Regions from separate parts of the Homo sapiens genome. Here regions 2, 3, 4 and 5 are each reported to be linked to region 1. Evidence: microRNA targets listed by miRTarBase, many of them from high-throughput screens and not tested one by one. Region 1 holds a microRNA gene; each other region holds the end of a gene's coding sequence.
Evidence for each region. The annotated mature microRNA hsa-miR-433-3p reads AUCAUGAUGGGCUCCUCGGUGU and lies in region 1 at 3,533-3,554, shown strand. An mRNA with a match to its seed (bases 2 to 7 or 8) in the 3' UTR can be bound and repressed. Matches are read on the target gene's strand: a 7mer-m8 pairs with bases 2 to 8, a 7mer-A1 pairs with bases 2 to 7 and ends in A, and an 8mer does both.

Region 1 (6,143 bases):
TGGGGACTTGTGAGGGCATCGTGAGCCCTGTGTGGGGCTGGGCAGTGCAGGGAAGGAAGGAGGCTGAGCTTGCAGTGCCAGCCTTGGGCTCCCGTGGGGTGTGTCCTTGGTCAGGGGCTCCCCACTGTGTGCCCAGTGGTCCTGGTCCACGATGGGTAGGAGCAGGAGGCAGAGCCACACTGTCTGGAGGCTGTCATGCTCCCGTGCCTCCCCTCGAGGACACAGTAGGGTCTCTTCCATGTGGGAGCTGAGAACTCTGGGGCCAGGTGGAAATGGCTTTCCTAGGGGATGGGGTGGCTCCAACTCAGGCTAGTCAGACCCCTGCGGGGCCCCTGAGCTTTGAGCCTGAGATCTGTTGGGTGGTCTCACGGTGTGTCTTCAGGAGCAGGTTCCTCAGCAGGGCAGAGAGGGCAGAGCTGGTGTGTCCTGGCATGGGGGCCCGTGTGCACAGAGCTCCAGTGTTTTTGCCCTCCTAGATGAAGTTCAAGGTCATGCTGAGAGAGGCCCACGGCTCCTTCCCCTCTGTGTCCTCGCAGAGCTCTCACCTGTGGAGGGGTGCAGTGGGGCGGGGGTGCTCTGGGAGGTTGGAGGCCACTCCTGGATAGGTGTGACCCATGGCCAGGAAGAGGGGTCAGCATGTCCTGGACTGTGGAGGGGGAACTCAGAGTGGGTGAGTGCCACCTGCCCTACCTCCCCAACTCCCTGTGGGACCCCTGGCAGCTCCCCTACCCAGGGCAGTGCACCCTCACCCTCACAACAGCCATTTTGCCACTTTGGGGACAGCATGACCCTCTGAAATGGGACCCAGGACTTTTCCTCTCGGAGTGGGGGTTAGGGACTGCTTGAGACCAGGGCTTGTGGACCCTGCAGTGTGGGGCTCAGACCGCACCTCGTTAATCACATGGCGAGGAGGCCAAGGCCAGAGGTGGGAACTGGGTTTCGGGGCTCCCTTTTCTGGAACCCTTAGGAGAGACAGCCCCCACTCCCCCGCCTCCCACTGCCCTAAGGCACCTCTTCTGTCCTCTCTTTGACATGAGCCTGTGGGGGGTGCACGTCCCTGGTGGCCTCAGTGGGGGTGGGTGCCTTCTCATGGCAGAAAGAAGTGCCCAGAGTCTTGGTGGGGACGCCTTCAGGAAGGTTGGGGGAGGCCTGCTGCCCATGTGCCAGGCCCCCAGGGGCTGTTTCAGGGCAGAGCGTTTCCTGCCCCCACCCTTCCTGCCCAGTCCACTTGCCCCCTCGTCCACCCCACCTACTCCCTCCCTCCTCCCATGCGTGTCCCCTCCCCCGCCTATCCTCCCACCACCTCCACTTTTAGAACAAACCCCAAAGTCAGACAGTCTTTTAGTTTGCTTTATTTGAGGAGTGCAAAAAGATTGGGGGGTGAGAAAGCTCGGGGGGTGGGGAAGGGTCTACTCCCCTTGCAAAGCGGTGGTGTGGCCAGAGCCTCTCTGTGACTCGGCATGGTCCCCTGGGTGTCTGTGTGCCTTCTGGGACTCCATCCCTGTATGAGGGGCCCCTGCACCCCTGCACTGTCCAGTGTTCAGTGTTGGGAGGGAAAGGCGCCCCAAGGCATGCAGGGGCCCTCTTTGCTGTGCAAGTCTGGTAAGTGGCACTGGTACGTCCGGATGCCCCAAAGAGCGGCTTTGTCCAGGTAAGTCCAGAGCTCAGGGCAAGAGGAAGGCGGGGTCAAAAAAGCTGAAGCAGATGTGGTGGGGGTGGGGGTGGGTTTGCTTGCAGGGTGTGATGGGGGTGAGGGAGGCACCACATCATCAGATGTCGGGAGGTTGGGGGATGGGGGTTGGGGGGCGGGGGCGGGAGCTCAGGGGAGCAGGAGCACCGGCAGTGGAGGTAGAAGAAGTCAGTGGAGCACCCGAGGTCAGTGTCCCAGGGTGGCCATCACCAGGCCGGGTGGGGGGCCCCGTCACCTGCTTGCTTGGCTGCGCCTGCTGTGCCTGCTTCTTCATCTGGCCACGCGTCATGGGGTCACTTCCTGCTCACCACTGCTTTCTCCCTCATGGATGTCACTCCCGGGCATGGGCTTGGGACCTGGAGAACGGAGAACTCGTAGCCCAGGGCTGGCGCTGGGTCTCTGAGGACTGGGTAGTCCGTTAGCACAGGTGGCATTGCTGGTTGATGAGTTGAAGAAGTTGTTGCCCTTCACAAGTGGGTTCCTCTTGGGTCAGGAGTGGCAGGAAGGGAAGCGAAGCAGGCTGAGGCGCGGGGAGGCCAGGGGACGTCGGGAGGTGTTGGGGTGAGAAATAGAGGGGACTCTTTGCTGGAGACAGGGAGGCGTCTTCAGTCGAGGTTAGCATCTTCGTCCTCATCAGGCAGCTCTTCTAGCCTTGCCTGCTCCCTGGGCTGGCTCTCCCAGGCGGGGATGGGCAGGGCCCGCCTGTAGATCAGGGTCAGGAACTGGCTCAGGGCCCTGGCTGCCTGCTCCCGGCTGAGCAGGTGCAGCTGGCCATCTGCACTGTGGATGTGGAGCAGGCGGCTACCAAGGAATTCCAGGACCTGGGGATCCATCAGGTGGCGTGGGCGGGGTGGGTGGGTGGCTGCTGTGTGGCTGGGTGGGGCCTCCTGCACGTCGTTGTCCTGCTTGTCCTGCGAGGTGTCTTGCAGGCCGTCATGCAGGCCACACTGACGGTAACGTTGCAGGTCGTCTTGCAGGGCTTCTCGCAAGACGACATCCTCATCACCAACGACGTGCAGCTCCAGGTAGCGGTTCTGACGCAGGGCAGGGAGGTGGCCCTCCTGGGGGGTGACTCTGACACCGAAGAACTCACACAGCGTCAGCCAGAAGCCAGGGGTGAACTGCAGGCCTCGGTGGGCCTGGGAGTGCAGAGCATTTCGCTGCCAGCGGCCAGGGCCCAGGAACAGCTCAGCCAGCTCCTGGGCTGGGATGGTGTTTGCACCTACGAGAGCGGGCATCTGGGTGAGCAGCTGGGTGATGGCTGTCGTGATGCTGCTGCCTGCGATGAGGGACGAATCCAGGATGAGTCGTAGGGAGCGCTGGGGCTGGGGCCGAGCCACCCGCATGGCGGGTGCCGGCCGCAGCGAGAGGCATTGCCTCACGCGCAGTAGCACGAGGATGGCTGCCAGGGCTAGGGTGTTCTTCCAGTACAGGAGGCCTCGGAAGAAGTGCAGAATGACGGCCCTGATCTGGGCCATGCTGAAGTGGGCGAGGAAGCTGTTGAGGATCTGGTCGATGGGTATCATGGCCAGCAGCTCTTGCCGTAGGATCTGTTCATTGAGCTCATCCTGTTCTTCATTCTCTTCTTCCCCGGATTCCGTCGATGGATCCCTGGGGAATCCCCTTGAGGCCAGCAGCAGGGTTTGCCTGGCGGCAGTGTTCCTCTGGAAGGCTCTCCTCCACCGGAGGTTTCTCACAGGTGGCAGAGCTCGGCCGCCGTCTTGTTCTGGCAGCTCCATGACGTCAAAGTTGAAGTGGGAGAAGAAGAAGACCCAATGCCCGGGGAGAAGTACGGTGAGCCTGTCATTATTCAGAGAGGCTAGATCCTCTGTGTTGAGAAGGATCATGATGGGCTCCTCGGTGTTCTCCAGGTAGCGGCACCACACCATGAAGGCAGCCCGTATTGGAAGAATCTTCATCTCCGCTTGAGAGTACTCAACCTCGATAGGGGAGATGTTGCGGGAGTAGAAAGCGCAGCAGGCTCTCTTGCCGGTTTGGTCGTCGATTTGGATCAGGGAGGCGTGCAGGGCCGTGCCGGTGACGCCGGTTTCCAAGTAGAATGGGTTCTGGGGCTTGGGGTGGTGGAGGAGAGGCGCCTTGCGGAAAGCCCTCTTCAGGCACTCGAAGGCCTCTTGCTCCTCGACTCCCCAGTAGAACTGGTAGGAGCTCAGCAGCTGCCGCACCAGGGGCTCTGCGATGATGCTGAAGCGCTCCACGAAGTGGCGGTAGGGGAAGACGAATTCGATGAAGTTTCGCAGAGATAGCTTGGAGCCAGGGGTAGGGTACCCTGTTATGATGGTCATGACGTTCTTGTTCAGTTTCACCCCTTTGGGGGTGACGACGAAGCCCAGGAATTCCACGGTTTGGCGGTGGAACTGGCTCTTGTCCAGGGAGCAGTAGACGTTGTGATGGCGGAAGCGGACCAGGACTTGGCGGACGTGGTGGAGGTGCTCCTCCTGACTCATTGAGTAGATCAGGACTTCCTGGCCATAAGAAAGCACAAAGAACCCTAGCATGTCCTTTAGGATGAAGTGAATCACGTTCTGAGGTATGATAGGGTCTGGGGAGAGCGCAAACGGCTGGTAGCTCTTCATCTCTTCAAGCTCCAAACCAAACGCTGCTTTCCACACATCTTCGGTGCGGTGCCCGTTCACGCTTTCCTCCACAATGGTCCCACGCAGCTCCAGTTTTGTGAACCACTCGGCTCCGTGTAACTGGTCAAACAGTTCCGGAATCATCTGTATGTAGTCCTGTCTGTTGGTCAGCATGTCCTGCAGGTCCCAGTATTCCTCCTGTAGCCTGGCTCTTTCTTGCATCCTGGCACCCACAGGTTCCCAAGGCGCGGTGGAGGGACACTCGTAAAAGGTCTCGCTGTGATCACTGTCTCCAGCCTGCTGAAGCTCAGAGGGCTCTGATTCAGAAAGATCATCGGATCCGTCTGAGCTTGGCTGGTCGGAAGTCTCATCATCTGCTTCCTTCGGGTTAAACACGTCGGCCAGGTCTGAGTATGGGTGTGGCAGTCCGGGTAGCAGGCTCATGCCGTGCCTCTCTAGGGCAATGCATGGCGGGGGCGGGCGGAAGCAGTTCTTCAGGCAGTAGGGAGAGTGGAAGGTGCAGCGGCCTTTGATCCAGTCGACTTCGGGGGCGTGGACTCGGAGCCAGCGGATGCCTAGGACCACAGAGAAGTTCGGTGAAGGTACGATGTCAAATTCGATGGACTCCTGGTGGTTCTGGTGGATACACACCAGGGGCTCCGTGTAGAGCCAGACAGGCTCGTTGCCAATCAGCGAGCCGTCCACGGATTGGACCGGCTGTGGGTACGGCTTCTCGTAGAGCTCGACGTAGTGCTCTTGGGCGAACTTCTCATCCATGAAGTTGCCGTCAGCTCCCGAATCCACCAGGGCCTGGACCGCGACGCTGTGGTAGGGGTTCACTCTCACCATGAGCAGCAGGAAGAGGTGGGCGCGATTGATGTCCGGATGGACTTCGCTGGGCAACCAGCTGCTGACCATCCACCTCTCTGGAGCAGGTGAGTCGATCCAGGTCAGGTTCCGGGGGCGGGCCTCGGGGGGCAGCCTGAGCATAGCTCTTCTCTCTGCCAGCTTCTCTTCTATTTGCAGGATGAGCACAATCAGACTGTCTAGGGAATCCGGCTGAGGGACCCGGAATAGATAGTGCCTGATCTCCTCGTTGAGCCCCTGGCACAAGTGGGCCTGCAGGACTTCATCTGGCCAGCCCAAGATGGGTACCAGGCTCTGGAACTCATCGATGTACTCAGTGGCAGAGCGGCCGCCCTGCCTGATGGTGAACATGGCCTCTTCTGCCACACGCAGTGCCTGGCGGTACTCAAACACTTCGGACATGGCCTCCAGGAAGGCTGGGAAGTCTCCGATCAGGGGGCTGTTTTCCTGCAGTAGAGCTTTGGCCCATTCTAATGCCAAGCCGGACAGGTGATTGATGACATAGCCAACTCTCAGACGGTCGTTATAGAACATTCTTGGGTAGCTCTGTAAGGTCAGTTGGCAGAGTACGATGAACTCGTGGAATTCTCTGCGATCGCCAGAGAAGTGCTTTGGGGCGGGCAGTTGGCCTGCATTGATCCCTTTGATCAAGATCTCTTCTGCTACTCTCTGTTGCTCTTTGAGGTCTTGCATTCGGAAGTACAGCGAGATGATGGACCTCACCATGGCCATAAGTTCTGCGGTTGAGTGCTCGGTCTGGTTTTGCTCTTGAGGAGTCTCCTCCCTTCCCGATTCCTTCAGGTCAGTGTGAGCCTCTTGTTCTTCTCGGGCTCCCGATGGGTTGACTGATGCTTCTTTCATCCTATCAGATGCTCCACTGAGTGGATCCCCCCTTGCCTGGTGTGAACCGTTGCATGACTCCTCCAGGTCTTGGAGTAGGTCATTGGGTGGATCCTCTATTTCCTTACGTGGGCCACTGGATGGCTCCTCCA
Region 2 (6,143 bases), not on the chromosome of region 1:
CCCTGGAGCTGCCGGAATAGATTCCAGCCACCTAGAAACCCTGAACTTGAATAAGAGAGTTGGAAAACGAATGAATGGATACAAATTATTGGAAAATAAAAATTTGTCAAGTGTACAATAATCATACCAATGCAGGACAAGAGATGAGATAGGAAAGTGCTCAGCAAGTCCGCCACATTCATTATTTGTTTGTAAATTGCACGGTGGTAAGAGGTGATCCTAAAAATTTTTGCTTTTCAAACATTGATTCCTTGATTTAACCTACTACCACCATAATCACAGTCATTTACTGATTCACCAAATATTGAGTAAATAATTATCATCACATTATGTTTTTATTAATCTTTCTTAAATGTACATGTGACTGACATTTATTTCAATGTTCAACATTAAAAGTGTTTTGGGTCATTAGTGTGAAAGTTAAGCATATAAACTGAGTCATTCATGTCATAACCAACTAAAACAGAGTCAAGAAGCCAGAGGGAAGAGAGCACTCAGGGCATATAGCATTGCCCCAAGAATGTAATTCTCTGCAAGCCTGGCTGCTGAAACTGCCTGCTATAACTGGAGACCAGTTTCATCTAATATCTACAGAAACAACCTGTTAGGACCCTAAGACTAGTTCTATCCACTGCAGTCACTCACCAATCAGAACTTGCCAGCTCCCCACATTTTACTAGTGTCAATTGAACTTTCTTTCAAAATGATACAGAACATTTCTCCTTTTTGTAAAATTTCTAACCTTCTCTTTGTTCTTTGGACATGCGAAAGACTCACATTGCTATTCTTGCTTCCCCAACAAAAACGTTAAGCTTAGAGATGCATCTCTAAAAGTTTATTTTGATTTCTACATTAGTCAGAGGGTTGGTGATATTTTTGTGATCAGACACATGCCATAGGAATGTACCTTTTGTTATATCAATTATCCCACAGTAAAACTGGTTTCATTATATGTCCTTTTGCTTAGTATCACTGTTTCCAAGAATATATCAGTAACATTAAGTGAGGACTCATTGTATCTGTAGGCTTAACAACTTTTCTATTGAAGCCAGGCTTTTATTATATATGAGATATTTCTGATGATTAGCTAATTCACAAAGCTGGAAATTGCCATAACTGCATTATGAACATAAGTGACAGCCTGAATGGCTTTCTTACTTTTATACATTAAGTTTATGATAGATCTATAATCTCACAAAGGGTTAGTGGCATAAATTCCTTGTTTTGTAACACAGGAACAGAAAACCAAACACTGCATGTTCTCACTCATAAGTGGAAGTTGAACAATGAGAACACATGGACACAGGGAGGGGAACATCACACACTGGGGCCTGTTGGGGGATGGGGGGCAGGGGAGGAAGAGCATTAAGACAAATACCTAATGCATGTGGGGCTTAAAACCTAGAAAACAAGTTGGTAGGTGCAGCAAACCACGGCACATGTATACCTACATAACAAACCTACATGTTTTGCACACGTATCCTAGAACTTAAAGTAAAATAAAAAATAAATAAATAAAATAAATTCCTTGTTTTGACATTGCATTTGTCTAAAAACCAAACCCTTTGGAATCGACAGACCAAGAGTTTTCTCCACCCCCATATGCTTAGATTTCTCTTATCATTGCAGAAAATGTGGAGGAGTTTGGCAATTGGTAGTTAATATTCCAATATAAAAGAATAAAAACTGAAAGTTAATTTATAATTACTAATAGAACATTTTTAAATGAAGAAAATAAGGAGACGAAAAGGATAACAGATGAAGTTTCTCACTAGCATCCTGAGAATATAATAAATTGGTTTCAAAATATCGATTTGATAATAAACCAAATTATTCTTATCTCTCCATGTATGAGTTAATTACTATGTTGACATATAACTTCCATTTAGCAGTATCAAGTAAAATCCCTCTGGATACCCAATAATCATTTCTTCAAATAGTGTCAGTCCAGCAAAGGCAAATTATTTTTCTGACATAGGAATGGATGCCAGTATATAAACATAATAAGATTAAAAGATACAGTGACTTTCTAATTTTCTACAAGTTTATAAAACCATTGTTTTAATCACATTTCATTCCTCAAATTACTACAAATGTCTGTCACAATAAAAATGTTAGAAATATATTCCTGTTATATCTCAAAAAAATTTTGATTGCAAAACAACGTTTATTTGGGGACATCTTTGATCAGTGTACTGTCTTTTTAAATGTGTACAATTTCCCTCATAGTTACAAGTTTTAGACACCAGAACCACTTTGCAAAAGACTTAAAATATTTCCTTAATGCTTGCTTTAGGGCATGTACTTCAAATATGGATGTCAAACATTGAACCAAAAGTAGTTTTTTACTTTTTAGTTTATAAATAAAAGTAAAAATGGGGTTATTTTGAAGATTATTTAAGTACTACTGCTAAACTATTTTTACTATTTTTTATATTCATAAAACCAAGAGGTTTTGAGCTAAAACATTTCCTTCTCTATCTCTCCCATATACACACCCGAGTGCACACCCAACTCTTCACATACACGAACATTCAAGTGTCGCTTTATTAAAGTCATATGTTGAACTCTCTCCTCTCACCATACACATCAGCATTAATTTATGTAAGTAAGAAGATGGTGAACGAATATAGAAATAAGATAGCATTAAAGCAATAGTCTTGTCATTCAAAGTGTGCTTCAAGATCTAGGAACATCAAGCATCACTGGGATGTTGTAGAAAGGCAAAATCCCAGATCATCCTCTAATAAGAATCCCCATGTGATTCATATGTACATTAAATGTTAGAAACACTGTTCCAGACTAGTGGCTCTCAAAGTGTGGTCAACATTACCTAGGAAACTAGGTGAAACTAGATGCACATTTTTAGACCCCACCCCAGAACTACACATCAGAAACTCTGGGGGTAGAGGCCAGCAATCCTTGTCTTACCCAGCTCTCCAGGTTGGTAAAGAGTGGCATCTGGTCCACTATCATTACTACATGCCCAACCATGAGGGCAGCAGCATTGACAACTGTTGGGCACTAGGAAATAAAACCTTAGAAGAACTTTTACAAATCTATCAGAATTTGTATCTGCTTAGCTTTCTAAACTCATCTGTGCCACTCTCCCCATAGCTCACTAAGCTCCAGCCACAAAGCTATTTCCTGCCTTAGGAACCCCAGACTCATTGTTTCCTCCCCCTAGAAGGTTCTCATCCTTCTCTTTACCTGGGTAGCCCCTTCTTAACCTTTAGGGCCCATCAGAAATCTAATCTCCCTAGAAAAGCTTTCTCTGAGCCATCCTACATTTATTCTTTCTTTTTTTTTCTGTCTGAACCTTGTTTTCCTCATAGAATAACTCACCACTCATAATTATGGTATTTGTTAATTTACTTGTTTACTATCTGTCTTTCCCACCAGCCATTAAGCTCCATGATGTAGGGCCCACCTCTATCTGGACCACCCCATTTTCCCCTAGTGCCTGACACTATACTATACTACTGTATAGTAGCCTTTAATGAACCTGTGCTGTGCCAGGCATGGTGGCTTATGCCTGTAATCCCAATACTTTGGGAGGCTGAGGTGGGAACATCATTTGAGGCCAGGAGTTTGAGACAAGCCTGGGCAACATAGCAAGACTCCATCTCCACAATAAAAATTTAATTAAAAAAGAAAATTAAAAAAAAATGTTTGCTGAATAAATGGCTAAATAAGAGATATAATGAAAAGAATACCCGACTCAGGTAGATGGGGACTTACCATTGTTAATGGAGGTGGTACAAAGACTTATTCTTCCTACAATCATATTGGGTGAAAGAAATGGTCTTTGCCACACTGAATTAAGAAAATAAGTAAACATAAGTTGGCTGTAATGTTCAATACTTTTCAACATTAGAAGTTCTTTAAATACTAAAGTCTTTCTCTAGGGCATTTAGAATTTTGTCATTTTTAAATGTTATATAAATAAAAGAACTGTCACCCGAAAAGCAATGAAGCCAAAACACTGCATGAAAATGTTTAATTCCCTTTTGAATGTGTGTTGAATTTAATACAAATCAATGAGGCATTTTTCTAGGCCAAAAGAAACCAACGTTACATTTAGAAGGCAATTGACTGCATAAAAAATATAATCTATACTATATTTTAAAAAGAAATTCAAAATCTGATTCTATGGTTAAGGTGGTATAATAATGTCCTCTTTACAGAGCAAGACACCACAATAAAGTAATGGCACAATAACGGAAGTTTTGTTGTTTTTTACTCTTTGTATTATCTTCATATCCCAGTAAAAAATAAACTCTTTAATAAATAAATATATATAATAAATATTTTCAAATTGAAAGTGTATAAATAGGTCCATTCTTTTAAAAAGTGTTCTGTCTTGGTGTGGCATGTTTCATAGTTCATGTTTCACCCAGGTGTTGTTTAGTTTTTTTTTTTCTTAAAACATATAATGCCATAACCTGTGAATTCTACAAGGTCCTCAGAATTTATGTAGCAATGCTCTTGGCTAAGTCAATCCATTTCTTCAACATGAAGTCTCTATTTTTAACATAAATTTTAAAGTAAACATAATCCAGAGAGGTGAGGCACCAGCAGCAACCATGTGAGGGTTCCCATTATCCACAGTTTAACAGATTTTTGGCTTCAGTCTACTGGTAAGGACTAATCCAATGTATCTAAGGGAACTTAATCCACATATAAAGAGTGATCATGATCTATTTCTAGTCAAAATTTTTTTTGGTTTTTTTTCTCAATATTCTTTCCAAATCCAGTCTCTCAGTAGAAAATAGACTTTAATATTTTGAACGTCTCCTTGGGTCATTATTTTATGATGGGAACTATGACAAGAAAGAATGGTTGTGGTTTGACTCTTCCATAATGTCACTATCGCACTTCAAGTGTACATCAGTAGGTCCTTGTACAATTCTGGAACTCTTTCTGGATCCACTGGTCTAGGTAAGAAATGTGTAAATTTCTGATGCCTCTTGGACCTGGCGCCATCTCTTGGAGTTCCGTCTTTGTTAAGTGCCACAAAATACCTGCGGCCAGTGTCTCCATGTTTATATATGTTAGATGAATAGGTGTTATACCAGTTCTCTTCAAACTGCTCCCTAAAGATGCATTCGGAAGTAAGTTTCTCCTGAAAGAGAGAAGATAACTATTATTTTTTAAAAAAATACCTTTGAGATAATTTCCTTACAAGTTTCAACTCTATATTTTCATTTCTTTGCCTTGTCAAAGAAAGAAAAAGGTTAAATTGGTTTTGCTTTATTTTGTTTTAGTTCATATGTCATCTCTGATTCTTAGTGCAGGTGACTTCATCTGGCAGTGTACTTTAAAGTTGCAGTCCCCACCTCTTTGGCACCACTGACCAGTTTCATGGAAGACAATTTTTCCACGGACCAGGATGGGGACACGGGATGGTTTCAGGGTGATCCAAGTGCATTACATTTATTGTGTACTTCATTCCCATTATTATTACATTGTAATATATAATGAAATAATTACACAACTCATCATAATATAGAATCAGTGGGAGCCCTGAGCTTGTTTTCTTGCAACTAGACTGTCCCATCTGGGGGTGAACGGATGCAGTGACACATCATCAGGCATTAGATTCTCATAAGAAGCATGCAACCCAGATCCCTCGCATGCACAGTTCACAATAGGGTTCATGCTCCTATGAGAATTTAATGCTGCCGCTGATCTCACAGGAGGCGGAGCTTAGGTGGGAATGTGAGCAATGGAGAGCAGCATGTAAATTCAGATGAAGTTTCGCTCACTTGCCTGCTGCTCACCTCCTGCTGTGCAGCCCAGTTTTTAACAGGCCACAGACCAATACCAGTCTATGGCCCAGGGGTTGGGGACCCCTGCTTTAAAGAACTTTCAGTCAAATGTCAGTTCCCAATTTTATTTTCAAATACCTAAAAAATATCCTGAATTTTCTCATGTCCCATATCATCACCCTACTCCCGCCATCACTACCAAGCAGACCTGTAGTTTATCTTTTTCCATCGTTAGAGGCCAGAGTTCTACCTATCAAGTCTCTACTCTCACCTTGGAGCATTTCAAGATCTTGCTAAGAACCAAATTCCAAATTCATGATCATCACTCCAAATCATATATCTTCTCTTTATGAATTTACTAACTGTTTGATG
Region 3 (5,876 bases), not on the chromosome of region 1:
TCACCATGTTGGCCAGGCTTGTCTTGAACTCTTGACCTCAGGTGATCCGCCTGCCTCGGCCTCCCAAAGTGCTGGGATTGTAGGCATGAGCCACCATGCCTGGCCTAACACCCAAAATTTTTATTGGGAGCTGGTCACTTAGTACCGTCTGCTTAGCACATACCAGAATTCCAAACCCTGCAAAGCAAAGCCTGTGTTCAGCATAAACCACGTTGTTTGCATAGTCTATGCACAGGGAGCCACCCATATCAGCTAACTGTTGACTGGGAGCGAAGTTGGCCAAGGGTCAACATTGCAAGGAGACCTTTCTATAGATAGTAGTCTCTCAGGCCTTCAGTGTTAACTCTTTTCTGCACAGGGTGAAAAAAGAAATGACACTCCCTGCTCCAGAATCAGATCATAGTTATTCTATGGTACTGGATATGGAGGTTGTGGTTGGTGATTCAGGGATCTTCATTTTTGCTGTTTTTCTTTTCCAGAATGGCTTTGACTACTTACTAACATACAGTGACAATCCCCAAACGGTGTTTCCTCGCTACTGTGTTAGTTGGATGGTTTCCAGTGGTAAGTAAGGGCAAGTATACAGGGCCTGGAACCTGGGTTGAGCATTTTGTTTTTCTCTATTTCCTAATGGGGAAATAAAACGTCTCTTCTGGTTCTTCTTTTTTTTTTTTTTCTGAGACAGAGTTTTCACAACCCATGCTTTGGGAACACATTCCGGGAGGCAGCTCTTATTCACAGGCTAGTCAGGTTGTGATCTTTATAAGGAAGAACTAGTTCCCTACCATCAAAGAAATAGGGTCTTCTCATTTTGAGCCTACTGTTGGTTTGTATGTCAGCTTAACCTGATTCTCGTCTCCTGACAGGCATGCCAGATTTCCTGGAGAAGCTGCACATGGCCACTCTGAAAGCCAAGAATATGGAGATTAAAGTAAAGGACTACATCTCAGCTAAGCCTCTGGAAATGAGTAGTGAAGCCAAGGCCACCAGCCAGTCCTCTGAGCGAAAGAACGAGGGCAGCTGTGGCCCTGCTCGGATTGAGTATGCTTGACAGGCTTTGGGATAAGAAGGGACAAGGTGCTTCTAGCCCTGTCTCAGTCCGTTATCACTCTGCTGTAGAAGGGGGACATGCCACATGTATTAGAAGGCATCTGCTGTAACTTCCAGTGCAAGATAATTCAATAACTGATGTCCCATTTCATTCAGAGCCCTTATTGCTCTTATCAAAACAGAAGAAGGCTACATTTGTGGGAGTGTTGTCATATTCTCAGGCCAACTGTTTTGAAATTCGGTATCTCACTGAGCTAATCTGGAACAAACCTCTCACCTCAGGCCAGAAGGGGATGACCTCCATTTGCTTCTCTGAGTAGTTTCCTCTGCTGACATTCCAAATCCCACCATCGATTGTGCAGCGCTTTGGATTTCCTTCAGTTCTCCAGGTCCACCTGGAAAGTATAGTTGGCCAGTTGAGTCTCTCAAATGAGGGGCTACTGGGAGTGCTCTTGGTAACAATCATGATGTGAATGGGTGTGAACGATACTTGGCTATGTTAAGTGCCTTGTCCGCACCTTGCTTTTATCTCTAGAGACATGAAGTTATTATTAATTTTTTTTTTTTTTAAGTAGAGATGGAGTTTCACTCTGTTTCCCAGGCTGGTCTTGAACTCCTGGGCCATGCCTGGCCAGGGACATGAATTTGTACAAAGAAATTTCCCTCCCTGCCTGCACAATATCACCCATTGACTCACCTTATCCAAAGCAAGTTTCCTGTGAATCGGCCAGTTCTTCTATATTCATTGGATCATTGCCTCCTTCCTAACCTTCCCCATTTACCAAGAACACTGGGAGACTAATCCTTTTAGATAGTAGCTTTTTGATGCTCAAAACATCACATTTAAATTTAGTTTAAAAATTTTTTAACTTTTGTGTCAAATAGGAGTTGAGGAATTGAGCAGGATTCTACCCTAGTCCGATTGTATAGAAAACACCATTTTGATTCAGGTATTATTTTTCATATTTCAGGTTTGACTTGTTCTTTTCAGAAGGCTAAAGTCAGAGGAATGGGGGCTGGGCCACTCCCTTGGAGCTCTCAGATCTACAGACAAGCTGTGTGAATGCATAGATGTAATCTTGTCTCAAATACTAATACAGTGGAGATTTGGTTTATGTTACCATTAAGTTCCTCTAAAAAGTTTTTCTTCCTCTCTTCAGAGCCAAAATAAAAGTGAACTACACTGTTCAGATAAGGTCACAATCTGATGCTGTCAGTTTGACCGAGCTGGTTTTGCTTATGGTCATGCTGCAATTTGTTAGAATAATAGGGATCAAGTTTTAAATCCTCCTCCTTCCCTTTTTTCTGGAGTCTTGAGGGCCAGAGTTTTTGTTTTTGTTTTTGTTTTTGTTTTCCTGCTTGCTACTGTTTTGTGGTGTTGAAAAGTGGTTTAAACCTGAGACTAACTTAAACACTTCCTTGACCTTCTTGTTGCCTGTTCATTTTTGTGCCAAGGAAGTAGCTGCCCCAGTGTATGTCTTGCCTTCTCCGCGTCATTGTTGGAAGAGGAGAGATGCATCGAGCAGTCCCAGCTGCTTTTCATTTATTACTTCTTCTTTCCAGGACCTGACAGAAGTCAGGGAAGAGTCCCTGGGTTATGTCCAAACTTAGCACCTGCAATTGTTGGGATGTGGATGGATGTGTGCATAAGAGAGAGAGAGAATATGTGTGTGTGTGTGTGCGTCTGCGAGCGCACACACATGCACAAGTGCGAAGGAGTTGCGGTTGCTCCATGTTCTGACTTAGGGCAATTTGATTCTGCACTTGGGGTCTGTCTGTACAGTTACTCATGTCATTGTAATGATTTCACTCCTAACTGTGACATTTTTATCAAATGTGTGAATAAATACATAAAGATTGGTACAAAAAAAAGTGTTTGTCTTTGGACAAATGGTGGTGGAAAAATCTTGCATATTGGACTTACCATTTCTTTCTGATCACAAAGTTGAAAAGAATTTTACTCTGAGAGTTGGGAGGTGGAAGTGGCAGGGCTTGTTCATTCTTGGTAGATAGTGGCTGACACAGTTTGCCTAGACCACGAGCCCTTTCCAAGTGACCTGCTTGGCAACTGAAAATAAACCACCTATGTCCACTTCCCTAGCTTGATATACTGACCCATATCCTTTCCCTTTAAAAAAAGATCACTTTGGAGGGAGCAGTGCTAGAGCTTAGCAGACGGTAGAAATCAGGAGGGACAGAAGCAGGCCTGAGGTCTAGGGTTGAGGTTGAGGAGAGGGTCAAGTCAGCGCTCTTGGCGGAGGGGCAGTCCTGCTGGCATGCTCTGAGCATAACATGAGTTTATGTGTAATTTTGCCTGTGGGAAGCACTAGGTGAACACAAAAGCACACCCAGTTGAACTGAGCTGCATAGGAACACACAAGGCACACGTCCCTGTGTGGTGTACCATCTGATTCCAGAGAACCGCACGCCCCATCTCATGCTTGCAAGCCGCAGCCCTTCCATCGGCCATCCTGGCTCTGCCTCACACTCTGCTCTTTATTCTCTTTCAACCTCATTTGTGTTTTACCTCTCTAATTTTTTTTTTTTTGAGACGGAGTCTCACTCTCGCCTAGGCTGGAGTCCAGTGACGAGACCTCGGCTCACTGCAACCTCTACCTCCCGGGTTCGAGCAATTCTCCTGTCTCAGCCTCCCTAGTATCTGGGACTACAGGTGTGTGCCACCAAACCTGGCTAATTTTTGTATTTTTAGTAGAGATGGGCTTTCACCATGTTAGCCAGGCTGGTCTCGAACTCCTGGCCTTAAGTGATCCACCCACCTTGGCCTCCCAAAGTGTTGGGATTACAGGCGTGAGCCACCGTGCCCGGCCTATAACATTTTTAAGTGACAAAATTTTAGAAATGGAAGATTGATTTAGAAATGGCCGGGCGCAGTGACTCATGCCTGTAACTTTCGGGGGCCGAGGCTGGTGGATCACCTGAGATCGGGAGTTCAAGACCAGCCTGACCAACATAGAGAAACCCCGTCTCTTCTAAAAATACAAAATTAGCTGGGTGTGGTTGTGCATGCCTGTAATCCCAGCTACTTAGGAGGCTGAGGCAGGAGAATCACTTGAACCCAGGAGGCAGAGGTTGCGGTGAGCCAAGATCACGACACTGCACTCCAGCCCAGGTGACAGAGCAAGACTCTGTCTTAAAGAAAAAAAAAAAACCACATAGACCAGGCAGGGTGGCTCACACCTGTAATCCTGACACTTTGGGAAGCCGAGGCAGGCGGATCGCCCGAGGTCAGGAGGTTGAGACCAACCAGGGCAATATGGTGAAACCCCGTCTCTACTAAAAATACAAAAAAATTAGCTGGACACAGTGGTGGGTACCTGTAATCCCAGCTACTCAGGAGGCTGAGGCGAGAGATTTGCTTGAACCCGGGAGGCAGAGGTTTCAGTGAGCCAAGATCACACCATTGCACTCCAGCCTGGGCAACGAGCGAAACTCGAAAAACCAAACAACAAACCAGAGCAACACCAGGGATCCCTTGCGATGCTGGTCTACCACCACAGTCAACTGTGGTGTTAGATACACAAAACTACACTGGTGATAAAATTTTAAAGCTTTTTTTTTTTTTTTTTCCCGAGACAGAGTCTCGGACTGTTGACCGGGCTGGAGTACAGTGGCTCGATTTCAGCTCACTGCAACCTCTGCCTCCTGGGTTCAAGCTATTCTGCCTCAGCCTCCCAAGTAGTTTGGATTACAGGTGCCTGCCACCACGCCCTGCCAATTTTTTGTATTTTTAGTAGAGGTGGGTTTTTACTATGTTGGCCAGTCTCAAACTCCTGACCTCGTGATCCGCCCGCCTGAGCCTCCCAAAGTGCTGGGATTACAGGCATGAGCCACTGTGCCCGGCTAAAATTTTATAGCTTTTTTTTTTTTTTTTTTTGAGACAGAGTTTTGCTGTTGTTGCCCAAGCTGAAGTGCAATGGCACAATCTCGGCTCACCACAACCTCCGCCTCCCGGGTTCAAGCGATTCTCCTGCCTCAGACCCCTGAGTAGCTGGGATTACAGGCATGCGCCACCACCCTGGCTAATTTTGTGTTTTTAGTAGAGACGGGGTTTCTCCATGTTGGTCAGGCTGGTCTTGAACTCCCAACCTCAGGTGATACACCTGCCTTGGCCTCCCAAAGTGCTGGGATTACAGGTGTGAGCCACCGTGCCCGGCAAATTTTATAGCTCTTTTTTTTTTTTTTTTAGATGGAGTGTCTTGCTCTGTTGCCCAGGCTGGAGTGCAGTGTCGCAATCTCAGCTCACTGCAAGCTCCACCTCCCGGGTTCACGCCATTCTCCTGCCTCAGCCTCCCAAGTAGCTGGGACTACAGGTGCCTGCCACCACGCTTGGCTAATTTTTTGTATTTTTAGTAGAGTTGGGGTTTCACCGTGTTAGCCAGGATGGTCTTGATCTCCTGACCTCGTGATCTGCCCATCTTGGCCTCCCAAAGTGCTGGGATTACAGGCGTGAGCCACTGCGCCCAGCCCAATCTTTCTTCTTTTTCTCTATGTTTTCTCTCACTTTGTCTTATCTTTTGTTCTCTTCCTCTTCATGCAGGGTGGTACGCGTGGGAGCTGGGTGGGCTGTCCAGTGTGTTTCTGCCTGCAAATTGCAGGTCAAGGTAGACTGCTTTATTTCTTAACCATTGACATATTTGAAACTGGTACCTTTTTATGTGTCACAAAGATTTGAGTATTGCACACCTAAACCCATTTCTCTATAGGCCTTGCAGTTTTTGTTGTGTGGTTTGTGTAGACATGTTGTGAGACAGCAGCACTGAGTGTTCTATGAACAGGAGAACCAAATAATAGGAAAGTAGTGATGC
Region 4 (6,143 bases), not on the chromosome of region 1:
TGATCAAAAAAGGTAATTTTTAAAATGATTTACCTTGTAAAACAAAGGGGTAGAGCTGCTACAGTCCATCTAGGCTCTATATACTGGTCATCTCATTTCAGTTAGGTCAATTGGACTGCCTCTTCTCTTTGGCAGTCTAAAATCTCATTTAAGGGCTTTAATAAATGAAAAAACTTACCTTAAAACTGACATAACTAAAATATGACCAGAAAGTATACCATAGCATTGATAATTAAATTCAAACTATTGGTCTTGCCATACTTGAGAAACAGATGTATAGTCTAATTATTTACATGTTGCCAAAGATAGAGCCTGCAGATTGGTAGAATCCAAATGATGTGACTCTCCCCCTCCCTCCATCAAATCTAGAAAAGCAATTCTTGAGCAGACACCAATTTAAAGATATTTTTCTACCAATTTAACAATATATTAGGAACCAGCTTGGCAGATTATGAAAAAGGTAAAAATCTCTTACTTTTGAGAATCCCCATGTATCCTTGGGCAACATCTCTGTAATTTAACAGCCTTTAAAACTTAAAATCGTAAGAAAAGACAACACAGCCCTTAGCATTACATACTTTACTTTTCAATCCTTACTATTCACAGTTTGAGCTAGGAATTAACATTTGCTAATCTAGTTGGACTCAGTTTTTCCCACAATGCTCTATTTTCTCACCTAGTTTTGACAAATTTATTCCTTCTCTTCCCAAATACTAGGATAAGAGACAGTCTCAAACTGTTAAGTTGCAAATTTCTTGGGGTTTCTGCTTTATTATTTCCTTGATATCCACAGCAGAAATTCAGAGGTATAACTTCAACATTAACAGGTGAAAAGTTCTACAATGACTTGTTGCACTCTATCACATTAAAATAATTGAACTATAATTTCCATACAACATAAGAAAACTACAGTATTTGGTGACAACTGCAAGATACCTGATAAATAAATATATCAACTTACTATTCATGAAAAGAATGGAGCTGGTTATTTCAGCTTTAAAAGGGCAAAGCAAAAAGACCATTTTCTAGCCATTTAAAAGTTACTCAAAAAATTGATACAATGGAGTGGAAAGGAAAACAAAAAAGATCGTAAGCACCTTTAACAATGTTCTTGCATTCTACTGATATACAAACCTCTGGGGTTTCAGTTGGCACAATCAAGTTCAACTTGTACTAACAGAAAATATTAAAATTCTTCCTATTTTTAATATCAAACAGGGAGGTTAGTAAATTGTTTTCTGATTCTTCTACAAAAAAAAAAGTCTAGAAGACAGAGGGAATGTAGTGTGCACCCCTTATTCTAAGTGATAATTTTTACTTACGAGGTCATAACGAGTGCAAAGGGCTTAGTGATGCATCTTATTCTTTACTTTTGGACAGTAACACCCTCAGATGGTATTTTTATTGGTTTGTTTTATATTCCCCTTTTCCATTTGCCCTTCTGTTTTGAAGTGCTTTTTCTTAAAACTTAAGTTCTTTGCCTCCATTTTCTTATAAACCCAATTTCCTCTTTAGGTGCAGCTCTACTATTTGAAAGGAACCTTTCTGTTGTAATTTACAAGCTGTGAGTAACTGCTATATCATTGTTTCCAAGGATTAATAAACTGAGAAATGATTTAATCAGATATTTGCCACTTACAAAAAGGGAGGCTGACCTTAGGAATTATTTGAATATGGGATAAACTTTTCCTTTTATTCATAAGTTACTTCACATTGTAAGTATACCTTTTTAAATAAGGAGGACACGAAAAAAGAAAGCTTTGTTAACACTCATCTATCTTGTCAATGTTTGAAATCATTTTTCCTTTATATGCTTGGTAAAGTGAGTCTTTCCAAGAAAGCAAAAATCAAATCTGAGTACTTCAAAGCCTGTAAAACCATAAATGAATAAAACCATAGGACTTTGGACATACACAACCAAAGTAGTTTTTGTTTTTCACATACACCATTAAGTTGAACTTCAAGTGCAGTGGAAAGGTACAGCACTTATTTCTGGATCAGTTCACATTCAAATTATAACCCTTTATCTTTTTCTCAAGAATACTACAAACTGACCCTAAACATTAAAGTACACCTGTGCATTAAATCCCTGGGCATTTTGCATAACGTAGAAAAAAAAGGCCAAACATGTTCTAGTGCTCAATGTAAACATTTTAACTATTAATGATTTATTAATTTTCCTTAAAGGTACTTAGGAGTGTGTGTGTCACATATTCAAAGTTAACCTTAGGAATAGCACCATAACCAAAAAAACCCATAAAAATTATTTTCTCCATTATCTCTCAGTTTTATTTCATAACTTGAGAAGCTACCATTGTCGGCTATGCTTTTAAAGACATCAGGTCCATTCTTGCTGCTTCTGATGAAACCAAATCTGATTAAAAACCAAAATACCACTTCTGTATGCAAGGGTCTAACTATTTTGGACTGAAAGAAAAAATGGTAATTGGATGGCCAGTCAATGACCAATTAATGCAGTCCAAATAATCAGAATAGTTCTATTAATGAAGCCTAAACTGTCAAAATATTGTTTTATACCAAAAGAATGTATGTACTTATGAATGTATTCCATATTTATTTATGGATTTTTTTGGTACCTTTTTGCAAATGATGGTAAACATGGAGTTAAAACCTGAGAACAGATTATAAAAGAGAAGGTTAAGAAGAGTTTAAATAAATTAATGGATTTGACATCTATCACCAGTTTTTAAAATTAGCAAAGTAAAAGGCATCCCATTAGTCTTTTCAGTCTTAGTCAAGGACAATTATCATGAATCAATCTGTTTACTATCTACTTAACACAAGTTCTGAGAAGAAAAGCATCATAGTTCTGAAATGGTGATAGCTCTCTAAGCCACAAATGAGAGGAGGTTTCCCACCTATCTCAGTTGATAATGTCCAAAAACATCCTTCCCCATGCATCAGAGTAGAAAGAAAATGTACCTTCTACTATGTCAAATGGAATAGATAACTACAAAATAGGAACACTTCAGAACATTCTCTAACATTAATACCAGTCTGATGCTTCGCCTTGTCTGCCACTTCAAAGATACACAGGAGAAAAGGTTTTGTCTGAAACCAAACACAATTAGGGCTAATAAATAACATTGTCTAATATTGATACCAGTCTGATGCTTCACCTTATCTGCCACTTCAAAGATACACAGGAGAAAAGGGTTAATTTTGTCTGAAATCAAACACAATTAGGGCTAATAAATAACTTACAGGTGGGGTACTGTAACATATCCCTTACCCACTAAATATGTAAACCATTTGAATCAAGTCCATCTTCAGGCACAAACAAGTTAGGAATGGCCATCTACACTGGAGTAGCATAACCTATCAAGTATTTGGTTAGAAAATAAGTGTACTATTTGTGTGATAAACTTTCACTTTAAATGGATTATAAAATTATTTTCCCACAAAACATGACAGTTTCTTATATTTGGACTAGAAGTCACTAATAAAGATACATTTAGTTGCCCCAGCAAAGAATGCTTAGGATTGCACATGGAAGCAGTAAACTAAAACAAAGAGATGGAGAATGACATTTAGCTATTTTCCTATATAGATAAGATTTGCAATTGTACTCTTAACAAAACTCACCTCTACAATTGGAATACAGATGGGGGAAACCTACATATTAACTTAAATACTCTTTTAGCCCTGTACACTCTATTAAAGAACACACTTCTAAATCTAAGGCACACGAATTCCTCTATTTCACAGAGTAAGATTATGGAAGAGCAAGATTTTGGTTAAATCCCTTACAATGGAAACCAGGAGATCTTGGACAGAAGACAGATTATATAGCATTTTGTTAGTGCACAATTTAAAAGAAAATGCTCTGACTATGCTCTGGTCCTAGAGGTTTAAAACATGCACTCAAATCATTAAAAATAATTTACCAGCACTTTATAAATTCAAGTTTATAACATAAAAGTGACAACGTTTTCCTTAAGAAGAAAAAAACCCAACAGCACTTGGGAAGAAAATTAGAAACCATTTCAATGAAAGTGACCAGATCTGGTATAATGCATTCTACTCAAGTAGCCAGGGGAAGAAAAAAAAAAAAGTGGTAGGTACCTCGCCTACTAATCATGGTTACACCTCCCATGATTATAGTGTCAGTATGCATGTATTTATGAAGAATCTGTAAACATAGGTTGTGAAATTGTTGTAACTACTATAGAACAGGGGTTAGAAACTACTGCCTCTTTGACAAATTCAGAAAATAACTGCATGACACTTGCTGCCATGAAAGTAATGCTCATTGGTTTTGATAACCAGGATGTCTAGTGTTTAACATATTTCAAACTCTTGCTATATGTAGTCAAATACTGTCAAAATAGATCTGCCCCCAAAATGAAGCATATTTTGGCACCTGTGCTGAATGCTGCTACAAAGACCAGCAAGTGCAAATAAAAATAACAGTCATGATTTAGTCACATTCATAACTTTTCATAGAAAAATATAAATATATTCCCTGAATTGTAAGACAAAAAAATAATTTTAACAGCCAGCTTTCACCATAAATGCCAGTCCATTTCCTCTTAAATGAACTGGCTTTCCCTCAAGGTCATAAGGTGCAACCATTGAAATCTAACACATTTTCTAAACTTCTGTCATCATCCCCATCATGGTATCTCACAGTCCTTCTACCCTGATTTCTCGTTTTTATTTTTGAACGTCGAAGAACTCTTTTAGATTTTGCATAGTCCAAATCCTCCCAGTCATTATCATCCACACTTAACCTAGGGCGTTTGCTTTGTCTTTGACGTCTCACAGTTTTAGATATGTTAGCTGTAAAAGTTTTACCTTTTCTAACTACTTTTGCTTTTCCTTTCGTTTTCCTCCTTTTGGTTTTTGTATTATCAGTACAGTCAATATCTGATTCAGTTACAGATCCCAAATCTGATGATTTGGAACTAGTATCAGGTCTAAACTTTGAATTCCCAGTTGTTTCAGAGATTTTCACATTTTCCAATTCAGGATGCGATCTCTTCCTTTTTACTTCCTTCTCTGCTGTTTCCTGTGAATCATGAATCACTTTTGTCTTACTAAAAGGAGCCTTTCCATAGGTCCTGAGTCTTCTGCCATTCCACCTGCGCAGCCCATAATTCAGTTCCACTTCAAAATTATTCTCTGCAGTAGCTTTTTGTGCCAAGGTTGACTCTGAAGAAAATGTCCTATCAGTCTCACTCCCTGGAATATGACTTTTTGAATCTTCTCCTGAAGATGTAACAGAGGAACTTTTTCTTTTAGAAGGTGCATCTATTTTGTGAATATTGGTATGCCTGTGCTTGTGTTCTGAATTCAACATATCTTCAGAGTCTGAGTCTCCATTTAGAGCCTGACTAAGCACTTTTGTACTACCTTCGGAGTCAGGATCAGGTGGCTTGCCTTCACAGGCATACTGTTCACTTGGTACTTCACAATGTACACTTCCTTCACAATCACTCAATTTCTTCTTAGCTGTAGTACAAGCAAGATGGAGAGGTTTTTTCCTTCCATTTTTGCTTCTAGTGTGCACATTTTCTAAACTGACATCTTCTACATCACTCATGAGCTTGATCTTATTGGCAGCCGTAGCTGCACATCTTCGAGTAATCCTCAGGAGACCTGTTCTGGCTTTTGATGATTTCTTAACCACCTGTAAACTACTGTCTGAGTCACTGGAACAGACCCTTTTCCTGGAAATTTTTCTGCTTAGTCCATTGTCTTGTGATGCAGAATCTAAAAGTTAAAGAGCAGATTTCTATTAATCTTTTGTAAGTCTAAAGGAATTATATGTTCAATATTAAAAACAAGTTCAGAATTCGTATTAATTTGAAGGGGGTATTGCAGTGAATGGAATGGTACACACCTATTAGTATAGTCATATGTTGCTCAACAGCAAGGATACGTTCTGAGAAATGCATCGTTAGGCTATTTCGTCTTAAGCAAACATCACAGAGTGTGCTTACACAAACCTTACAGTACACCCTACTACACATCTAGGTTATATGGTATAGCCTATTACTCCTAGGCTACAAACCTGTATGACATGCTACTGTTCTGAATCCTGCAGGCAGTTGTCACACAATGGTAAGTCTGTGTCTGTGTATCCAAACAGAAAAGGTAATGCACTGCACTAGGACTTG
Region 5 (5,000 bases), not on the chromosome of region 1:
AATTGCCTGCAGAATTGAAAGATTGCCTCTCAAGTAACAGGGAGAGAGGCATGTAAGCACGTGGGCTACAGTTCAGGCTTTCAAATAACAACATATGTGGTTCTGCTTTTACTGTAGTTGTCACTTTTCAGGTGAAAATGGCTTCACACATTTAAGGGATCTTACATGTCTGAGCAATATTCTATAATTATAAAAATAAGTGATTTATATTGTGAAATTGGAAAGTTTATGACATTGCAAATTATCATCTTGTTTTCCTGAATATATCATAAAATGGTATTTGGATCTATTTGATAATTTTGTGGGATATTTCTGAAGAATCAATGAGCATGTACATACAAGTAGTGACTTCTCAAATATTGTATTCAATTGCATCCTTTTCAGTACCTCAAGATTCCTGTATATTTTAGAGTATAATAAAATACAGATGTGAGTTGTGGCAACAAAAGAAAAAAGAATGTATAATACATAAATTACATCTTATCCACAAATGTAATTTTAATCCATTGTATATACCTTTCTTGCTTCTGTTTTCCATTCCTGGATTCAATAGGTATTTTCCTACGTTGGAATAGATCCTCTAAGTATTTGGATGAAGCATATGAAGAAATGGTTAACATCATTGAATATAATAAAGAATTACAAGCAAAAGTCAATATCCTTCGAAGGCAGTTGGCAGAACTGGAAACAGAGGACGGGATGCAGGAGAGTCCCTGAAAGGTCTCCTCGCACCCTTCGCAAGGACCTTCTTGGGCCTGTGTCCGCCGTTCTCTCCTTGTGCCCTTCAGTTCACTTTTACACGGTAGCCTTGAAGTGAAGGCTTTAGATGTGGGACCCCCCTAATGTAATGGATTTCTCAATACTGTATGAATAATGAAACTTACTATCATAAACCATGTTTCATGTGGCCTGTTAGGGCCTGTCACTTTGGGAGCCGGAAGGAGGTGCTAGTCATTTTATTTTTACGTGAAATAGATGACCTATTTAATGCCATTTGTGTTTCATGCCATTTTATCCAAAGCTTTTTCTCTGTGTCCACTCTCCAAACAGCATTCTAGAGCAGTCAAGGAGACAGCTAATCTCTCTAGGGACTATTTGGTGGTTTAAAAAAAGGGTCAGACTTTTAAACACTCTGACCATAGAAATGTTTTTCAAAATGGCAACAATGGATAAACCAAGGATTTTGTGTTTAACAATCCATTTCCAGTGTCTTCGCCACATAAAATAGCCATTTTCTTTAAAATAGTTTTGGACTAACGAAGCTGAAATCTATTCTCATTCTTGTTTGTCAAGAAAGGAAAATCTGTTATTCAAGGTAAATTATTTCTACAAGGGCAACAGGTATGGTCCTCCGATATTTACATTAAGAAGAGTTAAATTTATTTTAACGTAGACACTAAAAGTATGTGCAATATACAATTAAAGTAGGAATTTGTTACTGATTGAGAATTGTTACTGGTGAATTGGTTTTCAGGTTTTGAGCATACATATACAATGTGTTTCAAATGCTGCTTGTAAAATTAAACCATCATCTAGAATAGAGTTAATTTATTATAATCAAGCTACAAATAGGTTTTCTTAAACCAGAGATGCACTGCCCTTGTCTAAAGTTCTTATTGCACTGGTTTATATGTGTATGTGTGTTTTATTGTGTGTTTTTTTAATTTGTAAGTATTCTAAGAGTTTCCTAATACTAAGGTTAAAATTTTCATGTTGACCTGAGCCTTTTGCAAATTTGCTTTGGCTCTATTGATTTGTCCATTATGTGTTAGGCAAATATAACTTAAGTGGAGGGGGAAGTTTATGAATATAATATAGCTCTGTGTTTTAAACCTCAGAAACAGATTTGAGTGTTTCAGTATTATAGAAACAGTGATGACTATTCATGCTCTGCTAGTCTATGCCTGCAACTCCAAATGTTTGTGGTTCAGTATTTCCCACCTACATTTCTGTTTGGTGACATTGCTCATTTTAACAAATATGACCGAGTCTAGTTTTTCTTTAAAAGGATAGTTTATGAGTAATCTTTAAAACCATTTCCATACCATCTGTATATAACCATTTCGGTAGAGAACACACTACACTGAACCCTGCTTTAGAGCTGTGTGTTGAGCTAAAAATATAATTTTTTAAAAATTGACTAGCAAAATCTATGGCCACACTGAGAAGCCTTTGAAAATGGCAAATACTTTTCATCACCAATTGCCCAATTCATCTTTCTTCTGCTTCCTCAGCCTTGTAGCAAAGGCTACACAGCAGCCCACAGTCCACAGTCTTTTTGGGAAAATTGGCCTGCCACCTTCTTTAAGCTCAGTTTATTTTTGACTTACTTTCTTTGCTGTAGTTATGAACCTTGGGGCATTAAAATCCCATGGCAAGGAGCATAAGAGATGTTCTCGTAGCTCTGCGTTGTGTGAAATGTCCATCTTAGTTTTGTTAAAAAAAAAAAAAAAAAAAGGAAACAGCCTCACTTTTTTGTGCTCCCTCAGAATTGCTTGCTATGTCTGTTAATACAGCTGAGCTTTTTGTTTTCTTCTCTTTTTGTCTCAAGATTGTATATGAAGGAGGCTTTTCTTCTCAGCTAACAGGCATATAAGGAAAACCATCTAGAGAGTTTTCTTTAGAAGTGACTCCCATTAGCCTGGTGTGGTGGTGTGTGCCTATAGTCCCAGCCACTAGGAAAGCTGAGGCAGAAGGATCCCTTGAGCCTAGGAGGTTGAGGCTGCAGTGAGCTATGATCGCATCAGTCCACTCCAGCCTGAGCAACAGAGCGAGACCCTGTGTCTAAGTAAAGAAAAAGCCAGAAGTGACTCCCACTGCTTCTGTTGATCGGCCATAGGGCTTCCATGGGTGGAAACTTGTGAGGGAGTTTGTATTAGGTCTGGTCATGGAGGGATGATGTACCATCAAGGTAGACCCATCTTCCTGATGCACATTTGCTGTGCGAGCCAGAGTACAGTCATAACACGGTATTCGCATTTCGTTTTCTCTGTCTCACTGAGACAACAATCTATACTGTTTTGGCAAGTTTGCATTTTAGTATTAATTTATAATTAGGGATTGTTCAAACTTCAGATCTGTTTACAGGTTGTAAAAATAAACTTCGGTATCAGTGCATCTACAGAAGTGTTATTTGGTAATCCAAATATTAGAGTTTTCCCAAATCCAAAAACGGTCAGAAATAAGTCCATTATCAATATAATTTGAAGAAGATTTTTAGTAGTACTGTGAAGTTCGTGCTTACCTGGATGAGAAGAATAAATGACACGGATACACTCCTGAGAAGACACTCGTTAAACATTGCATCGGAGAGCTGCCTTTGATAAATGTGCTGTTAAACACTTGAATGAAGAGAATGGTGGCAGAATGAGTGAGCAAGCAGATTGCCCCAGAGGGGCCGGTAATAATCACGTGAGGGATAATCAGATTCCTGCGTATTCAGCATCTTCTCTATTCATGTGGAGTGAAAGCTGGTTTTTATACAGGAGATACGTAAAGTAGGCCCCACAAATAATATTTTTAAAATACAAAGGATCACCACAATCCTCTATTGAACATATAAGGATCCTCAGATTTAAATAAGTACTTTTTTTTTTTTTAATCAGAAGAACATTGTTGTTTGATTATATGTTTTTAAAAACCTGAAGCTTTTTTGGTGGCAGGACCTTTCAATAAATATTTATTTGGTCAAAATTTTTTATTTTGATTTTATTAAATGGGAAGAAAGCAAGCAGAAATAGTAAAATTCAGTAGGTTTAAAACAATCTATAAATGTATTTTATTTCCAAGAAAACTTAGGGTCTCAAAGCAAGATTTTAAAGTGATTTTTGAGAAGACTTGGGGGGGACAATAATAGACATTCATGTCAGATCCCATATGGGGGATTTTTAAACATTTCTTTGAACTTTGAGGCCTGATTTAGGGGTGGGATTTTATTGCTTTTTGTTTTAAAGGATGAAATTTTGTGGGGTTTTAGTCTTTGATTCAGTCAGTATTTGGTTTATGTTAAATAAAAAATCAGTATCATGGAAAAGATATGACCATAATTTAGTCTCCTCAAGTGAAAAACAGGAGTAATGTTTCGTTGCACTTTGAAAGATCTGCTTCAAGGCATAACTCGTGTAGTTGTCTGGTTTCAGGGATAGCTGTTTGAATTGTCATTCTAAAGTAGGTCATCAGGTTCACTTATTATCCGACCTTAATCTGGGATAAAGGTTTTGGTATTTGCCCACTTCTAGATAGAATGAATGAAAACAACACAAGCGTTTTATGAGCACTCTTTATCAGAAAGGTATTTCCTGGACCAGAAATGGGCAATAGTTACAATAGTTGATCCTCTGTTCTGGAAGCTTTGAAATTTATCAGAGAATGAAGTCATTCAGTACATCTGATAAAGTTTTGTTGTTGTTGTTGTTGTTGTTGTTTTAATTGGGCAACCCTCAGAACTGAAGAGGTTCAGAGAACTTTCCAGGTTTATACTATACCTCAAGACCACATAGATTAGCTACTGCTTATTCTTTCACATGGGCTAGGCCTGTTCTCCTCCTCCAGACCTAGTATTCTAAGTTATTACCACATAGTATTTTTATGTTACCCATCATCTTTAAAAACATTATAGGCTGGGCATGGTGGCTTACGCCTGTAATCCCAGCACTTTGGGAGGCCAAGGCGGGCGGATCATGAGGTCAGGAGATCGAGACCATCCTGGCTAACACGGTGAAAACCCATGTCTACTAAAAATACAAAAAATTAGCCAGGTGTGGTGGCGGGCGCCTGTAGTCCCAGCTACTCAGGAGGCTGAGGCAGGAGAATGGTGTGAACCCGGGAGGCAGAGCTTGCAGTGAGCCGAGATCGCACCACTGCACTCCAGCCTGGGCGAAAGGGCAAGACTCCATCTCAAAAAAAAAAAAAAAAAAAGACTCATTTATCCATTTACATTTATTCTCAGATGATAAAATATATACTGATACTATAACTTTCTTATGGTATCAGTTTTCTTT

Region 2: miRTarBase lists FGF20 as a target of hsa-miR-433-3p. Seed matches in the 3' UTR shown: 7mer-m8 at 4,694-4,700.
Region 3: the mRNA of STARD7 is a reported target of hsa-miR-433-3p. Seed matches in the 3' UTR shown: 7mer-m8 at 1,512-1,518.
Region 4: the mRNA of BRWD1 is a reported target of hsa-miR-433-3p. Seed matches in the 3' UTR shown: 7mer-m8 at 4,435-4,441 and 7mer-A1 at 964-970.
Region 5: miRTarBase lists MTMR9 as a target of hsa-miR-433-3p. Seed matches in the 3' UTR shown: 7mer-m8 at 4,677-4,683.

The regions. Positions count from the first base shown.
Region 1 is chr14:100,878,417-100,884,559 of GRCh38, forward strand. MIR433 (microRNA 433) reads left to right here and starts at 3,470; the gene lies at 3,470-3,562. It overlaps RTL1 (retrotransposon Gag like 1), which reads right to left. Exons shown (of 4, transcript NM_001134888.3): 4 at 1,337-6,143. The coding sequence ends at 2,296. It overlaps MIR431 (microRNA 431), which reads left to right and starts at 2,591; the gene lies at 2,591-2,704. MIR127 (microRNA 127) reads left to right here and starts at 4,563; the gene lies at 4,563-4,659. It also overlaps MIR432.
Region 2 is chr8:16,988,193-16,994,335 of GRCh38, forward strand. FGF20 (fibroblast growth factor 20) reads right to left here. Exons shown (of 3, transcript NM_019851.3): 3 at 3,989-5,125. The coding sequence ends at 4,880. Among named protein-coding and RNA genes, the nearest start is that of FGF20, 11 kb to the right of the region's middle.
Region 3 is chr2:96,181,905-96,187,780 of GRCh38, reverse strand. It overlaps STARD7 (StAR related lipid transfer domain containing 7), which reads left to right. Exons shown (of 8, transcript NM_020151.4): 7 at 480-564; 8 at 867-2,922. The coding sequence ends at 1,051. Among named protein-coding and RNA genes, the nearest start is that of STARD7-AS1, 24 kb to the left of the region's middle.
Region 4 is chr21:39,191,680-39,197,822 of GRCh38, forward strand. It overlaps BRWD1 (bromodomain and WD repeat domain containing 1), which reads right to left. Exons shown (of 41, transcript NM_033656.4): 41 at 1-5,736. The coding sequence ends at 4,580. Among named protein-coding and RNA genes, the nearest start is that of PSMG1, 11 kb to the left of the region's middle.
Region 5 is chr8:11,322,072-11,327,071 of GRCh38, forward strand. It overlaps MTMR9 (myotubularin related protein 9), which reads left to right. Exons shown (of 10, transcript NM_015458.4): 10 at 554-5,000. The coding sequence ends at 717. It overlaps MTMR9-AS1 (MTMR9 antisense RNA 1), which reads right to left and starts at 3,357. Exons shown (of 2, transcript NR_189628.1): 1 at 3,245-3,357.